2 separate regions of the Homo sapiens genome follow, and region 2 is linked to region 1. Evidence: fine-mapped expression QTL. A gene starts in region 1. The other region holds a variant in brackets. All regions are shown on one strand. Distances are between the middles of the regions. Region 1 holds the start of HEXIM2-AS2 (HEXIM2 antisense RNA 2). Region 2 overlaps FMNL1-DT (FMNL1 divergent transcript).

Region 1 (2,792 bases):
ATGGGAGTATCTAGGATTGATTTCACTAGGGCTGTTGTGAGAACCAAAACATTTGCCCCAGAGAGGTCTGAGTGGGGTCCCAGTCCCTGCTGCCCCAAGCCTGGCAGGACAGCAGACCTCTGGATGGGGACCTCCCAAGGTCTCCGGGATACCTGAATCCTGCTCTGTGGGTGTTGGAGCAATCAGACTGCACAGAAGGTTTTCTAGGTGGGAGGGAGTTCAGTCAGGAGCCCCCAGTTTCGGCCAGAAACTGACGCTCAAGATACCAGATCGCTGTGAGGAGTTGTGAGCTTTCCCTGGAGGAGAGAACGGGGGTTTTCGGAGAAGACCCAGGCCCAGGGGTTCCTTCAGAGTTTGCTCCTGAGCTCCCTGTATTCTCCCCACAGTTTAAAGGCTGGACTAGACGGGTTCTGGGTGCCTTGTGCCTCCTTGTTCTTGACAGCCCCCAACCCTGACCCCTCTCTGCAGGGGGTTGGGCCTGAGGTTAGTCATCATGTGTTTGTGTTTGTCCCTTACCTCCCAAGGGTAATAAGGGAGGCGCTCTCCTGATGGAAAATAAAGTCAAGAGACAGAGGGGGACAGCACATGGATCGCCAGCAGAGCAGAGCAGCCTGGCTCTCCTGGTGCCTGCCATGTGTCTGTGCGTCCTGCTCCTCTCAGCCTCATCATGTGGGTGTGAATTCTCTGAAGTGTGTGAGGCCCTCGCCTGTCTGCATCAGAGAGAGCTGGGTCAGCCTGGGTAACGCAGATACCACCAGCCAGCGTCAGGCTCTGAGACAAGCTCACCCACCCCCTCGCACTCAGACCCACCCTTCCCCAGACACCCTGTCTCTTCCATCCCCTCCTGGTGCCCTTGCAGACTGGTGTTGGGTGTCAGGCAGCAATGAACATGGACAACTAATGGTGGCGGAGGAAATTAGTCAACTCACCAGTGAGCCAGTGCTGGCTGTGCCACCAGGCAAGGGGAGGGGCAGAGGCCTGGCTGCCCAGTCTGGCTTCTCTTCCAGGCCGTCATCTTGACAGGCCACACTGGGCAAGATGAGGCTTGGCCCAGGAGCTGCTGGGGATGGAAATGTTGATGAAATCTTGTGTGTTGCCAGGACAACTTTCATTTCTATCCTGCCACACCCAGGCCTGGCCAGAGCCTCCTACAATGAAACACAGAACAGATTCTAGGAACGCATGGGTTTCAAGAGAAAGCAAAATCTCATCCTGGGAGACCTGCCCCTGGAACCCTGGGTCCTCAGACAGCTCAGTCAGGAAGGGCAGCAGGAATGATCATCGCCACTTTGCAGACGGGAAACCGGAGGCTTAGCGAGGAAGTGGCTTTTTGGATTCCAGGAGAGCCTCTGGAGGCCTGCCTGCCCCTGTGGGGTGCTGTGGGGTGCTAGCCTGGGACCCAGAGGCCCCTTGGCATTTGCTGGCAGCCTCCCAGCTGCATTCCTCAGCATGGAGCCCGAGGGAGAGAGGAGGCCTGGGACAAAGGTGGACAAAGGTTGTTTACCCGGAGGTGCCTCTGTGTGTGTGTGTCTAGGAGGTGAGAGAAGATTCCAGAGGGCTGCTGGAGTGTCGGGGGAGGGGTGTGGGTGAGGGTGCTGGGTGCTCATTGTGGGCTGGTTATGCCAGGGAGGGGCAGGTGAAGAGTTTGGCCTTTCTTGGCCCAGAAGCTGAGGAGCCTGGAGGCAGGGAAGCTGCCAGCTGCTCCTCCAACATCCCCCTTACACGTAAAAGGCTGAAGGGCGCAAATAGGGCAGCACCTCGGTGGGTTAATTCCCGCACCCCCACCTCACCCCGCTGGAGGGCGGGTGGGGCAAGAAGAGAACAAAGGAGAGGATGCTAGCCGGGAGTGTGGGAGGGCCTGAACCCAAATGGGAGGGGTCCGTGAAAAGGGTCCCTGTCTGCCCCTCCCCCTGTCTGGCTCCCTGATTCCTGGGTAAGGGGTGTGCAGGGAGGAGATCGTCCTGGGGCCAGAGCTGGGGCTTAGCACTGGAGAGAACCGGCTCAGCTGTGGGTGGGAGCCAGGCCTGGGTCCCTCGGTGCCCCGCCCCCTTCGCTGCTTCCAGTTGTTCCCACACCTGCTGCTTGGTCTTGAAGCCTGGGCCTCCACTCCGCCTACTGCAATGGTGGAAGCTCCAGTTTACAAGACACCCCCACCCCCACATCACACGCCCTAGCTGGGGAAGTTGGGCTTGGACACAGCCTCCCTGGGCCTTTCCACAGCTGCCCTCACGCCCTGTGCTTTCTGGGACCCTCTTGGTCAACTGGGCCGGGGAAGGGAAGCGCAGAGAACATATGTTTCATGGGAGTGACTGTTGAAGCCTCCCACCACCCCTGCCCAGCCTGTCTTAGGATCCCTCTTTCTTCCCCGGCAGGAACTGCCCGACCCCAGGTGGAAACTCCTGTGCCCAGTGGACAGACCCTGCCTGCAATAGGGTCAGAGTATGAGGGAGAGGGGTAGGCAGAGATTGGTGGGCTGGGGCAGGAAGAAGCTGCCAGGGAGTGGGGGGAGGGGGTCCAAAGGGAAGTAACGGTATTGGGGGGAAAGGTGGCCAGGTCCCATTGCCCTTGTTGGGAACAGGCAAGTGTGGCACTGGCCCTTTAAGTGGGGGTGCCAGTCAGTGCCCTCCCCCAACCAACCCAATTCATGGGCACACTGAGCATGTGCAGGGGCTGTGCATGTGGGGAGGGGAGGAGAGGGGAGGGGAGAGGGGGGCATACATTCCGGAGGGAGCTTCTCATCCCCCTACTTCCGGTAGCTGCCCCCACTCTCCTTCCTGGGTCTGACAAAGGAG
Region 2 (2,792 bases), 31 kb after region 1:
TGATGGCTGGCTTAGGCTCTGCATTCTCTCTCTCCCTCTTCCCCTCCCGCTACCGAACTTGCCCTTGAAATTTCAGCAGCTGCTGTTGAAAGCATTCTTTTTGAAGGCCACTAGGGACCCCTAATTGCCCAACTCAGTCGCTTTCATAGTCTTCATCCTCTTGACCTCTTCTCAGGGCAACGGACTGGCTCACCCGCCCTTCTCCCTAAAACCACAGAAGGCCGCGCTTGGCTGTCCCAGTCTCTGCCCATTTCCTTCAACAAAAATGACAGAATGCCGGCTGCTCTGGGAGGTACAGAGGTGGATCCACTGTGGAGCCAGCTTTGCAGGTGGTGGCTTGTCAGGAAAATTCTGCAGGTCCTGGTCTTTTTTTCTTTTCTTTTCTTTCTTTTTTTTTTTTTTTTTTGAGACTGAGTCTCACTCTATTGCCCAGGCTGGAGTGCAGTGGCATGATCTCGGCTCACCGTGACCTCCGCCTCCCGGATTCAAGTGATCCTCTTGCCTGAGCCTCCCAGGTAGCTGGGATTACAGGCGCCCACCACCACGCCCAGCTTATTATTGTATTTTTAGTAGAGACAGAGTTTCACCATGTTGGCCAGGCTGGTCTCCAGAACTCCTGACCTCAGCTGATCTAGCCGCCTTGGCCTCCCAAAGTGCTGGGATTACAGGCATGAGCCACCACACCCGGCCTGGTCCTGGTATTTCTTGTATACTCCCCACACCCCAGTGAAGATGTTCTCTCAGCTTTTGTCCTCAGATGGGGTGCCTGGAATTGGTCTTTCCCCTGGAGGAGCCCCACCTTCTAGTGGTTTCAACTTTGCCTCTCCTTCAACAACCCAGGAGGGCAGCCCTGAGTCTCTGACCCTGACTCAGTGGATGTCCAGGCAGAATTATGTCAGGAATGGATCTGGGCTTAGTGTTTCTTCCTCAGCAGCCCCTAGGGCAAACAGACCTCCCCTCATACTCCTTTCCCAGGCCGTGAGCTCTTTTTAGGCAGGTTGGGGTCTAATTCTTCTCTATCCCTCGGCACTGGGCATGCAGTTGGCCCTCCATCAATATTTATGGAATAATGGCCAGGCGCAGTGGCTCATGCCTATAATCCCAGCACTTTGGGAGGCTGAGGCGGGAGGATTACTTGAGGTCAGGAGTTCAAGACCAGCCTGGTCAACATGGCAAAACCCAGTCTCTACTAAAAATACAAAAATTAGCTCGGTGTGGTGGCGCATGCCTGTAATTCCAGCTACTTGGGAGACTGAGGTAGGAGAATCATTTGAACCTGGGAGGCGGAGGTTGCAGTGAGCCGAGATTGGGTCATTGCATTCCAGCCTGGGTGACACAATGAGACTCTGTCT[C/G]GAAAAAAAAAAAAAAGTTATGCAATAATGAGCAAAGAGGTTCAGGGCTTGCCTAAGGCTTGGCCTTGCTCTTGGCTTTCATCACAGGGACCTACATGTTGGCTGGCTGTTGGGAGGGAGAGCTTTGGAAACTGGCTGTCCCTGGTACAGGGGAAACAGTGAAGAAAGCTGGGTCCCAATTTCTGGGTTATTGTCTCGGCTCTGCCATTTTCTTTTTCTTTTTTCCCCCCAGTTATTGTTTCCTGTTTTTTCTTTTTCTTTTTTTTTTATTTTTTGAGACGGACTCTCGCTCTGTCACCCAGGCTGGAGTGCAGTGGCACAATCTCGGCTCACTGCAAGCTCCGCCTCCTGGGTTCACGCCATTCTCCCGCCTCAGCCTCCCGAGTAGCTGGGACTACAGGTACCCGCCACCACGCCCGGCTAATTTTGTTTTTGTATTTTTAGTATAGACAGGGTTTCACCATGTTAGCCAGAATGGTCTCGATCTCCTGACCTCGTGATCCTCCCGCCTTGGCCTCCCAAAGTGCTGGGATTACAGGTGTGAGCCACGGTGCCTGGCCTGTTTTGTTTTGTTTTTGTTTTTGTTTTTTTAGATGGAGTCTCACTGTGTCACCCAGGCTGGAGTGCAGTGGCACAATCTCGGCTCACTGCAACCTCTGCCTCCTGGGTTCAAGTGATTCCCCTGCCTCAGCCTCCCAAGTAGCTGGGATTACAGGCACCTGCCACCACGCCCAGCTAATTTTTGTATTTTTAGTAGAGACGAGGTTTCACCATGTTGGCCAGGCTCATCTCAAACTCCTGACCTCAGTTGATCCACCCACCTCGGCCTCCCAAAGTGCTGGGATTACAGGCGTGAGCCACTGCGCCCAGCCCGTTCCTTTTATAAATTATTTCAGTAGGCTTTTGGGGAGCAGGTGGTGTTTGGTTACATGGATAAGTTCTTCAGTGGTGATTTCTGAGATTTTGGTGCATCCACCACCCAAGCTTGTACACTGTACCCAGTGTGTAGTCTTTTATCCCTCGCCCCCGCTCCCAATCTTCCCCTAGAGTCCCCAAAGTCCATTGTTCATTCTTATGCCTTTGTGTTCTCTTATACGTGAGAACATATGTTTGATTTTCCATTCCTGAGTTACTTCACTTAGAATAATGGTCTCCAATTCTATCCAGGTTGCTGCAAAGGCCATGATTTTGTTTCTCTTTTTTTTTTTTTTTTTGAGACAGAGTTTCGCTCTTGTTGCCCAGGCTAGAGTGCAATGATACAATCTCAGTTCACAGCAACCTCTGCCTCCCGGGTTCAAGTGATTCTCCTGCCTCAACCTCCCGAGTAGCTGGGATTACAGGCATGTGCCACCACGCCCAGCTAATTTTGTATTTTTAGTAGAGATGGGGTTTCTCCATGTTGGTCAGGCTGACCTCGAACTCCTGACCTCAGGTGATCCG

The links. PIP is the estimated chance that this variant, and not a neighbour inherited with it, causes the effect.
Region 2: its variant is fine-mapped to the expression of HEXIM2-AS2 in whole blood (TOPMed, PIP above 0.99).

The regions. Positions count from the first base shown.
Region 1 is chr17:45,170,035-45,172,826 of GRCh38, forward strand. It overlaps HEXIM2-AS2 (HEXIM2 antisense RNA 2), which reads right to left and starts at 1,451. Exons shown (of 2, transcript NR_135646.1): 1 at 930-1,451; 2 at 1-296. It overlaps HEXIM2 (HEXIM P-TEFb complex subunit 2), which reads left to right. Exons shown (of 4, transcript NM_001303441.2): 4 at 1. RefSeq lists enhancers at 343-1,301, 1,388-1,682, 2,260-2,792 and a silencer at 1,848-2,142.
Region 2 is chr17:45,200,729-45,203,520 of GRCh38, forward strand. The region is part of intron 2 of FMNL1-DT (FMNL1 divergent transcript); the gene reads right to left. Among named protein-coding and RNA genes, the nearest start is that of FMNL1-DT, 20 kb to the right of the region's middle. RefSeq lists a silencer at 1,835-2,019. The variant C/G (reference allele first, on the strand shown) is at 1,353.